Linked DNA regions of Homo sapiens. The protein of the gene in region 2 purifies or fractionates together with the protein of the main gene of each other region. This does not show direct contact. Each region holds a gene or a part of one and is shown on either strand. Other genes may lie near its edges.

The links.
Region 1: the proteins of TBC1D1 (region 2) and KIF13B purify together in Homo sapiens (affinity purification with mass spectrometry, with the first as the bait; one large-scale study listed by BioGRID). This does not show direct contact.
Region 3: the proteins of TBC1D1 (region 2) and PPFIBP2 purify together in Homo sapiens (co-immunoprecipitation; one large-scale study listed by IntAct). This does not show direct contact.

What each region holds. Positions count from the first base shown.
Region 1 is NC_000008.11:29,074,510-29,078,160, forward strand, and holds part of KIF13B (kinesin-like protein KIF13B), read right to left. Parts: intron 835-3,651; coding exon 772-834; intron 1-771. UniProt on the Homo sapiens protein: Involved in reorganization of the cortical cytoskeleton. Regulates axon formation by promoting the formation of extra axons. May be functionally important for the intracellular trafficking of MAGUKs and associated protein complexes.
Region 2 is NC_000004.12:38,016,510-38,020,160, reverse strand, and holds part of TBC1D1 (TBC1 domain family member 1), read right to left. Parts: intron 2,768-3,651; coding exon of another isoform or gene 2,708-2,767; intron 1,808-2,707; coding exon 1,718-1,807; intron 1-1,717. UniProt on the Homo sapiens protein: May act as a GTPase-activating protein for Rab family protein(s). May play a role in the cell cycle and differentiation of various tissues.
Region 3 is NC_000011.10:7,639,477-7,643,127, forward strand, and holds part of PPFIBP2 (liprin-beta-2), read left to right. Parts: intron 1-255; coding exon 256-394; intron 395-1,556; coding exon of another isoform or gene 1,557-1,589; intron 1,590-2,002; coding exon 2,003-2,144; intron 2,145-2,821; coding exon 2,822-2,950; intron 2,951-3,651. UniProt on the Homo sapiens protein: May regulate the disassembly of focal adhesions. Did not bind receptor-like tyrosine phosphatases type 2A.

The DNA.
Region 1 (3,651 bases), on a different chromosome or scaffold from region 2:
AAACCACCATGATGAGCTACAGAAGCTGCTGCCTTCACTGGCAAGGGGCTTGCTCTGACCATCCTGCTGACCAGGGACACTCAAACCTGCCTCAGAGAAGAGACCGGCACCATTCCCAGGGGAGGGGGCACCCCGATCCCGGCCACAGCAAATTCGTGAATGCCCAGTGTGCACTGGGGTAAAAAGGTCATTCAGATAGAAGTAAATTCACGGAGATCTGAATATTCTTTCTAATGATTGTGCCTCTGTTGCTGTTGTTTTAATAAAGAAAATTTTCCTAAGAAGATACAGCATTTCCTAAGAGAATGAAAGCGCAGTGGGAGAAAATAGATTTGCTATTCATAAGATTAGAAGTGCTGTTGATCTGTGGGAGATTATAAGAGACTATTTTCTCCACAGCTTAGCATTCGTCTTTTCACGCTGATATCATGAATCAGAATGAAATGTAAAACTGAGAATTAAGCAAACATTTAGAAGAAGGAGATTGTTCTGTTTATAGAAATCTCCTCTGCCTAGCTGTGGGCTATTAAGGCAGCAGACTACATTAGCAGTCAAGCACCTAAAAGTTTAGCAATCATATGATTAACAAGTTGAAAATAGAAAAGTATAACAAGGAAAATAGAGAGGGAGAAGGCAGTGACCTATATTATAACTAATTACCAAAACAGGAATGCTAACATCAAAAACTGTGGGTGTGGACTCAACAGTTTCGGCATCAGGGCCACCTGCTCGCTGTAGGTGGGGTGGCCACCCGTGACCCAACAGACTCACCTCCTCCATCCTGGTCACCCTGATGTCCGGGCTGGCTGACTGCACCATGATGCGGGGCACGGGCTGAGGAGGCAAGTGTGCAGGTCAGGGGTCGAGAGGACAGAACAGGGGTAGCAGAAAGGTTTCCGCTGCACAGGCTGGAGGGCCAGGACCTGCCCGAGGGGAATCGGCCCATCAGGTGTGCGAGTGTGAGGGGCTCCACACCCTCCAAGGAACAAGGGACCCAGCAAGGGGCTCCTCCCCCAGCCAGGGAAACAGGCCACATGCCAAGATCACCAACACACATGGTGCACTTACACACACGACGCTCTCTCCCTCCCTCCAATCACATATGCACATGTGAACCGAGGACTGGGCCTGTACAGACAAGCATTATGAGACAGGAAAGATACAGAAAGACTTCCGGCAGGAGGTGAAAGCCATGCCAGGCTCTGATGGCTGGGGAGAGGAAGGAGTGTAGTCACAGGAGGGGAGGAGGAAGGAGGCCAGGCTGGCTGGAGCACAAACCCAGAGCCCAAGATGGCAGGCACAGGTCTGCAGAAGGCCCTGGGCATCGGAAACTAACCCTACTCAGGAGAGGAAGGGGGTCCCCACTGAGTCCTGAGCAAAGCAAGAAGACAGCTGAAGGCCAGAGACACTGTCCGGGTGGGGACACAACATGACCGGAAGAATATTTAAAGTCCAAAGAGGCAGATCAGTAATGCAACTCCAGTGACAGAGCAGGGGGAGGAGGTAAGAGCCACAGGAAAGGGCCTGGTTACTTGTGGACACATGGGCCAGGGAACATTAAAGAGACAGAGTTAAGAATCATCAGAGCCAGGAAAAGGGAAGCCTCGGGGAGAGAAGGAACCAGAGCATCATTCTGTTGCTGCGGAGTGGCTGTGGGACACAGAAGCAGCCGAGCAGATGTGCTCATCCCAGAAGAAGCTGGGAACATGCCACTTCTGCCCCTCCCCCTCCCCCTACCCGACTGCAGGAACCAGGCCTGGCCTCCCATGCTGGGCTCTCATGAGGGCTCCATTCTGCCAGGACAGCCGCGGGTAGGGCTTCTTTCTTGTTGGGTCCACAGGGCACAGCTGGTGGCTGCTCGGTTACTGAACTTTAACTGCCCAGAGATGTGGACTCCACGTCTCCCACCTCCCTTCTCCCAGCCCTCGGCAGTCCTGGTGCTTTGGCTCTTGTGCGTCTGGGCACTTGAGGCCTCGATGGAGTCAGGCCTTCTAGACAGAGCCTGCAGGCGCGAGCCACACCGCCCAGGCCTTCCTTCCTACTGGGGAGCCTGGACTCCAGCTGTAGGGAGAAGAGTCCCGAAGAAGCCAGCCCGCTCAGCAGGGTGCTCACCATGTTTACAAGCATGGAATAGCCTCGCTTCACCTGAGGGCACCACTATGACCACTCGTGCCTTGGGGCTGCTTTTGGAAGAAAAGTATAAGAGGGAATTGATTCCACAGAAGGTAAGGGGGCACTGGCAGGATTTGAGAAAAGGTGCAGTGGAGAGGACTCGAGAGGAAACGCAGCGATCAGGCTTAAAGACCTGGAAGGACTGGAGCCAGATGTGGTGGTGCACACCTGCAGTCCCAGCTCCTCAGGAGGCTGAGGCAGGAGAATCACTTAAGCCCAGGAGTTGGAGGCTGCAGTGAGCTATGATCACACCACCACACTCCACCCTGGGCAACAAAGCAAGACCCTGTGTCAAAGAAGAAAAAAAGAAAATAAGGTGGAAGGACCAAGGAAATGAACAAAAGGAATGTGTACTTTACACTGCAACCACTAGGGAGTTCCTGGGGTGGTCTGAGGCCCAGGACAGCTAGGACCAGGGTGCATTAAAGATTATGTGAGCAGCCAATGGGACAGAATGAGGGAGGGTCCCCTGGTGGCAGTTAGGCCATTGCACATGACAAGGCCTGAAGAACAAGACCTTCAGCCTCCACCTCAATTCCTTGACCAGAACAGTCTCCCCTCTGCGCCCCTCCCAGCACTCAGCTCCTTCTGTCCCACTACTGCTCTCCACGGCCCCGCCTACCGCCATCTCCCAGAGAAGAAAGTGAGGCTCAAGCACGCGTCCCACACTGCCACGCAGTCCTCGCATGCCAGGGCTCGTATCTTCATTTTTCTGCCTATAGTATTTAACGTCCCCACAAATGGGAAGGTGTTCAAGGGTATATTTCATGACAAAAGCAGAAAAAACATTTCTCAAACTCCAAAATACTTGCATTCTTCACTACATCTTACCTAAAGTGGACAAGATTGGGGAACAACTGTTTCCACAAAGGTGAAGTTTATTCCCCTTAAAGCCTAAAAATGCAAATACCCCAAGGATGGGATGTTAAGCGCCTAACATGAAACCTTTTCTAAAATCACATGATTCCTGCCCTCTGAAATAGAACATGCAAACAAGTTACACTTTCCTTCAGGACCCAGTGTGATTAGAAAAACCCAGTAGATAGATGCTTATTAAATATTTGCTGAAATGGATTCAGGGACTCGACTGACTGCCACTTTGGTTCTCACTCTCCATGTAAAAAAGTTCAGCTCAACAGAGACTGCACCAGGTCCTACCATGCGGGGGGCGTGGCACCAGGTGCCTCAGGCAACATCAGCATCAGAGGCATGGGCTTTGCTCTCAACAGATGGGCAACCTGATTGGTGGGGAACACATAAGCAAATCACTAAAATCAAGGAAGGTGACAGTGGAGTGGAAGCTTCAAAAGCAGAGAGGAGGCCAGGCACGGTGGTTCACGCCTATAATCCCAGCAGTTTGGGAGGCCGCAGCAGGAGGATCACCTGAGGTCAGGAGTTTGGGACCAGCCTGGCCAACATGGTGAAACCGTGTCTCTACTAAAATCCAAAAAAAAAAAAAAAAAATTAGCAGGGCATGGT
Region 2 (3,651 bases):
CTGATATTTTAAAATTTCAAAAAGTCTAAAAACATCTCAAATAAAGTTGGTTTACTAGAATGTTCCTTTGATTACTCCCACAACAATAAGAAAAATAAGATCTGAAAATTCAAGTTTTAGTGCTCATTTTAGTATTTGTTTGTTGTTTTGTTTGAGACATAGGTATTAAAGAATAAAAACCACTCAAAAAATCAAAGGCAGACCAGAGATTCATGAAGAAACACAACTAAGCACATACACACCCAAAGGTTAAAAAAATATTTAAAATATATTTGTATTCCTAAAATAAGTAGGTAAATACTGAAGTGAACTGGAATAAAGAAAGAGTCAAAAATTACATGCACACAGAGTAGAGGAGCTTTTAAACATATTAGGCCAAGGCTCTACCATGGTATCATAAGAGCTATTTTTAATAAATATTAATATGTAAATGTGTTTTAAAATCATCAGCTATCAGAGGCACCTTAATACAGATAAAACGTCTGCCATAAATATTAATACATCAATGTATTCTGAAAGCATCATCATGCAGAGATGTGAGTGCTGATAGCTTAATGTTCAGGTAATCATATAAACTTGTAAACTACACTCTTTAGGAAATTATAAAGCTATCACACAAAAATGTAAACATTTAACATTCATATTTCAACAGAAATAGCAGCAAATCAGGATTAAAAACTCTATGGGTAATCTCACTTTCAGGCCAAATATTTTCCAATAAATGAGCAATCATTAACATGCTTTGCCATCTCAATTAATCTTCTCCAGTAGCAAGTTAAGCATAAGGCTACCACTTAAGGAAATATGATTTAGCAAAGCTTTTTCTTTGTAAATGGTTCCCTATTCAATCTGTAAAGAACATTCTTTATTTTCACATTTTGCAGAAAAGTCCCTTTTGAATATTTAAGTAGATCACATTATAAATCAACACTGACATTTTCATATTTTATCAATTATGAAAATGAAAAATCCAGAGTTTAAAAAAAAAAGCAAATATAACCTTAAGTGATCTCATATTTGTTAGGAAGATCCTGAGTAAAACTGGCACAGCTAATCTTAATTGATAGATTCTTCCAAAATCCCTCTATGAAACACCTGGAAGATTATCAAGAAAAAAGTTTTCAAGTAGACACTGTACTCTGAGATAAGCACTATCTATATTTGAAGGGAGAATACTGACAATTGGTACCTAAAAAAGTTATAAATTTTTGTAAAGTAGAAATAGATCTAATAAAAAGATATATTTGTGTGAAATGTGTAAATATATATGTCAAAGATAAGCACTATCTATATTTGAAGGGAGAATACTGACAATTGGTACCCAAAAAAGTTACAAATTTTTGTAAAGTAGAAATATATCTAATAAAAAGATATATTTGTGTGAAATGTGTAAATATATATGTGTAATATGCACAAAGACACACACATGTGCATCTGGAAGTCATGACTGTGGATTATTACTACCAATAACTGAGAAAATTAAAAGTAGATCTATTTTGTCCATTACTGTTGCTAAGAGCAAATTTCTTAATTTCAAAATTATATTCATAATTTACCTTAACATACCAAAGCAAAGAAGAAAAGCGAAACACAAATCAAGTACAGTACTTAGAAAACATACACCTTGTAACCTTTAGCATTTGTTACATGATAGATATTATAGAAATTCATTTAAAAATTCCATTGCAATTGAATAAAAAAACCCATCTCCATTTACCTGAGAGCAAAAGGATATCTCCTTAAAATTTTTCTCCAATGCTATTTTTTTGGTGTCAGGACTGATGAGGTAAACTTCAGACTGGCCAATCTTAAAAGACAAACAAAAAAATCTAGCTTTTCAAACTTTCTCATTTCATGACCTATGAAAATAAAGAATAAAAGGGACAAGCTCCTATAAAATTCTGACTCTATCATCGTAGAAATCATTTCAAAGGTCCCCTCTTATCCTCTGGATTTCAGGTCATAAGACACATCTATTAGTGCCTTCACCTAGATAAGACAGCCATCTTCCTTGAGATGAAAGAACCAGATATCCAAAAGTTAGCAATAGGCCTCAAGATCCACACATCCCCCTAAAAACTGAGGTCTCCGCATAAGTGAACCTTCCAGAAAACAGAATCTACTCTTTCAAAGCTTCCAAGATACTTTTGAATGATTTTTACTGACAAGTCTTTTTAAATTATTGTTAAAAGAATCTACCATTTGTTTAGTACATATTACATGTGAGGCATTCACATACACTAGTGACCGGACCTTTTCAAGTTAGAGTATGAGCATCAATTACAATCCTCTTACTGCCTTGGGACATGCTAATAGACATGCATTATAGGAGACTGCTGTGTTGCAATACCCAACCTACTCTGTGTGCACACGCCCCTGCAGGCTGTGAAAGGCTGCCTTTTAGACTCCTCGTCTCTGGAGCGCTAAGCTTCTTGGGTTTCAGTGTGTGTTGGTTTCTACAGCTTTAGTTTCTCCTCAGGACCAAGAAGTCAGTGGTCACATCCTGACGCTGCCATTCTTAACTCCCAGACCCATCTCCTCCTCTAAACTCTTTACGCTTTGATGTAAAATACAAATCAGATACACAAGCTTGTTGGAAACTGGGGTGTAAGTCAAGGGGAATTATACTCTCAATGAGGGGGCCCAAGAAACGTGCATTCTGTTTGGGGCAAGGACTTTGCATTCTGAATTGTTTTTGCACACTTACTGTTTCTGAACTGTATTTCAGCCAGCAGAGAGTGGCAGGTAGCCTTTTACTCTTGTCCTTCTGTGGAGACCAAGGATGATGAAAAACTAATTCATTTTTAACATGCAACATCTTTCTAAACTAGACTGTGTCTCTCTCTAGAGTAGGAGCCAACACAATATCCTCCTTATTTGTAAACAACGAATAAGTATCTATTTGGAGTATGTTTAGTCTCTTTAGAAGTCACTGTCTTTACCTACATAATGAAGATAGTCCTTACTTATTTTTAAAAATAACCTTTGAAAATCTCATAAGGTGAGAGGCTCCAAGGCATTATTACTTAGCTATGGCTGGGTTGTAAAGAGCAAGTCAGAATCCAAAGTTGGGTGGGGCTCCTGAGATCCCTCTCCTTCCCCATGGCATCCAAAGGATTGTACATCCCATTAATTTGACTTTCTGCATGTCTGTCCCTTCCACTCCCACTGCACTTACCACAACCCCACTATCTCTCACCTGGACTACTACAACAGCTTCACTCCCCTCCCCATCCTACTCTTGCCCTCCCCCAAGTATCCTGGCTCTGTAGCCAAAGATATTTCACACTGTGTTTTATAGCATGCAGTGACTGCCCACTCCTTTCAGGATAAAAAACAAAACCCTGACCAAGACCCATAAAGTTGTGCCTGATGAAAACAACTTTCATGGGGCTGCCTCCAGTCCCAGCCCCATCTCTACGCACCATCCTTCCTTGTTTTCAGTGCGGCCATCTGGAATTATTTCTCACCCAACAGCTGTGCTCTAGGCACTACCAACGACAGCAGTGAACAGAGAAATGAAAATCCATGCCCTCTTGAAGCCTATCTTCTTGGGGGCATGTGGGACATAAAATCTTTTACTTGTTTATTTGTAATTGTGTCAAATGGTAAAAATGCCATGGAGAAAAATAAAGCAAAAAAGCAGGAAGT
Region 3 (3,651 bases), on a different chromosome or scaffold from region 2:
GAGTCAGTTTCAGTCAGCCCCAGATTTGCACTTGACTCTGTCCCTGTCTTACTGTGTGGCCTTGGGAAAGTTTCTTCCTTCCTTGGAACTCTGGTCCCCTTTCTCGGACTAGCTAAATAATCTTTGAGGGGTGTTCAAGTCACCATATGTGAAAAATGGCTCTTGCAAAACAGGGAGTTGTTCTGTATCCAAGGATTTCCTAACTGAGGCTGACAGTTAAGTCGGTATCTCTCTCTTTCTCTCACCTTCCAATAGGACAGCCCTTTCTTGGCGGAGCACAAATATCCCACTTTACCTGGGAAGCTTTCAGGAGCCACGCCCAATGGAGAGGCTGCCAAATCTCCTCCCACCATCTGCCAGCCTGACGCCACGGGGAGCAGCCTGCTGAGGCTGAGTGAGTGTCCAGCCCTGGTGCTGGTGGCCTCTGAGCAGTGTCCTTGGCACTTTCAATGATTGTATAAGATCCCTGCACCTACCACCACAATCCACAATTGGAGAATGGTGGGGTGGGTGGCTGGAACAAGTTGTACCTTGGGGTGGTCCCACCTCCCCAGAGGCTCCCCCTGGGCGAGCTGTTTTCTAAGGTCAGCACTCTACAGTCTCAGCAAACCAGGGTGTGTGTATCCCCTACTTCTTTTCGGCTGCAGCTTTTCACCCTTATTTCCTCTCTTCTTCTCTTCCTCCTCTCGAACTCTTTCCTGTCCTTCCTAGCATTGTTTTCCCTCCTCTCAGACACCCCCTTCTACCCTTCCTGCCCCTGGTGCTTCCTTCCTCTGTCATTCTGATCTTCTCTCTCCTGTCTCCACCTTCTTCTCTGCAGCTTCCCTATTCCCCGTAGGAGGGTATCATGCACTCCAAGTGGGAGCATTTCCTTAGGCAAATGAAGTCAGTGGCCAATGGGCAAGGGTGTCGGTCTGCAGGTATCCTTTCGGTGCGTAAGACCTGAAACCACAGAGGCTTTTGCTGCTTTTCATTCAAAATAAGCCATCTTTCCCCACCAGCAGCAAAAGATTCAATGGCCCCGGAAGGGAACATTCTGGTCCTGGCAGGGTTCTTCCTGAGGCTCCTCAGCCTCAGCTCTTCCCTGAGCTGGCCCATGCATTGGCCTAGTGAAGGCCAGCTCTGCCGTTGGCTGCAGGAACTTCAGATAAACCCTTGAATGAGTGTGTTCTAGTGACACTCAAACTGGACTCACTATGGCTTCAGATTGTTCTAGTCTGAGCTGAGTGAGCCCAGGCACCTGCACAAGAGCTGCCTGTGGCCTGGAGTATTCAGCCCCTGCTGCTGTCCCTTCCTTTCCCTGGGTGTGGACACCTCAGCCTGTCACAAAGGGGCCCCAGGAACACTTGGTCCCCTCACATGAAACCTCTTCTCAGTGTCAGTCACCACTCACCCCCTCCTTCTCCATGGGATTATTTTTCTTTCTGTTTGAGTTTTTCTCTCTTGCTCGATGACACTCTTTTGTTTATTTCTTTGCTTCCCCGTAACTCTGTTGGGCTGGACTTTGGCCTCTCTTGTTTCTTCATGTGGCTTCTCTGCTTCTTGGTTCACTGGAGATCGTGGCCGGAGTGTCAGTGCCCCCGTATTAGGTACTGTACCCATTCCAGGTGAGGTGGAGAGTGAGAATGCCTTTGTTTCCCTACCCTAACCCTCCCCTTCACCAGCACTCAGCCAGGGACCCACTACTGCCTGCGTTCCTGCATCTCCCTCTGAGGAAAAAGAAGCTGCTTGTTGGAATAATCCACAAGTACTTTGGACCCCAAATCCTTAAAATTAAAGACATTAGCTCACCTAGATTTGAAATATTGAGCACACTAATTTCTCAGCAAGGAAGCCTGGAGTCCCCACTAGTCTCTGGGATCTTGGTATGGAGTTCTGCCCTGAAGGCAGAACTGGGCAGATTCTCTGGACTCCCACTGAAGGGGAGGGCCCAGGCTTGGGGAAGAAGGGTTCCAGGGGTCACATCCTTACATTCACATTCATTGCCTTCTTCCAATCTCAGGAGACACAGAAAGTGGCTGGGACGACACTGCTGTGGTCAATGACCTCTCATCCACATCATCGGGCACTGAATCAGGTCCTCAGTCTCCTCTGACACCAGATGGTAAACGGAATCCCAAAGGCATTAAGAAGTTCTGGGGAAAGTAAGTTGGTGCCGTTGATCCTAATTATATTGCTTAGAATTTTTCTTTTTGATTGGGCAAAGAGTCTATGTAAGCCCCTGGTCCAATAGACACTGAAACAGCAGTCAAAACAGAGTGTTCATGTTCAAAGAGAAGAATCTGAGATATTTTCCAGGGCCAAGAGAAGGAGAAGTATGAAAGACACCCATTGAATATATCCAGTTGCCTTTCATGTCATGCATCCTAAGCACCCACCCATTCCACACACCCTGAACATAATCTCTGCAGCTTATATTACATTGGATCTGGCACAGACACAGATGAGACTGTATTCTCCCTTCTTAGGAGTCAGTCTGTTTTAAGAAATCTTTGAAAAACCTTTGAAAGCCAAGTACTTGCTGGCCCAACTGATCCACTTTGTGACATGAGGCAGAAACTGGGGCCTCCTACAAGGCATCAAACTTTGCTTTGACTTCTATGGCAAGTGACCAAATCCCAGAGGCAGGATCCGAATTGAGGCTTGAGTCTGGCCAAGGAGCTGCGACAGGTTGTGATCCTTGATCTCTGGGAAGGTACGGAGAAGCAGTGCTGCCGAGAGTCCCTGTGCTGGCCTGCATGGCCTTGCAAAAGAGGAAGCACAGTGACTGTAGGCTTTCTGACTATTCCATGACCGTCTCCATGGATTCTTCTCCATGCAGAATCCGAAGAACTCAGTCAGGAAATTTCTACACTGACACGCTGGGGATGGCAGAGTTTCGACGAGGTGGGCTCCGGGCAACCGCAGGGCCAAGACTCTCTAGGACCAGGGACTCCAAGGGACAGAAAAGGTAAGGCTTGACCCACTTTCCTTTGATCTCCCTGCTCTGAAAAAGAAGTATCTCCCTTCAAACCTGCATGGGTGAATCTTTACTCCTGTGTTTTGCGGAAACCCCTTTCCATATTCTCTTCCCCAGTCAAGCAGTCCCTACAGTACGTCATTTCCAGCACAATATCTCCTAAGTTCTGAGTTACTCAGCCAAGATCAGTACTCCTGGAGGTCTTCCACAGGATTGGAATGTGACATTTTATATCTAACCAAAAGGCAAAAAGTAAGCTGTAACTCTCTTCAGTTTAGTCACCTCAAGATTGCCATATACCAATGCAGAGTACAGGTAATTACTGGTTATGATATGTATCATTCAGATGTCCGTTCTCAGAAATAATATAGTCTAGATTCCAATTAAGGAAGAAAAGCATTTCCCTAAATGCATCATATTGTTTGCAGACCTGCATCCCCTGCGGAAGGGAGTCTTAGCTTATTTTGCACATGGATATGATACTGCACTTCCCTGGCTTGCCAAACAGGTTTCTAGTCTTACCAGGTCCTCCTCGTGCATGAGACCTGGGACCTTTCCAGATCCATTTATTCTTCGATGAGTATCCCCAGACTCCAGGAAGCTTGAAAAGAAGCATGAGAATGTGTAGACCATTAGCTTTTAGAGGCTAGAGAATCTAAGGACATAGTCTAAGTAAGTCAGAGACCAATTCA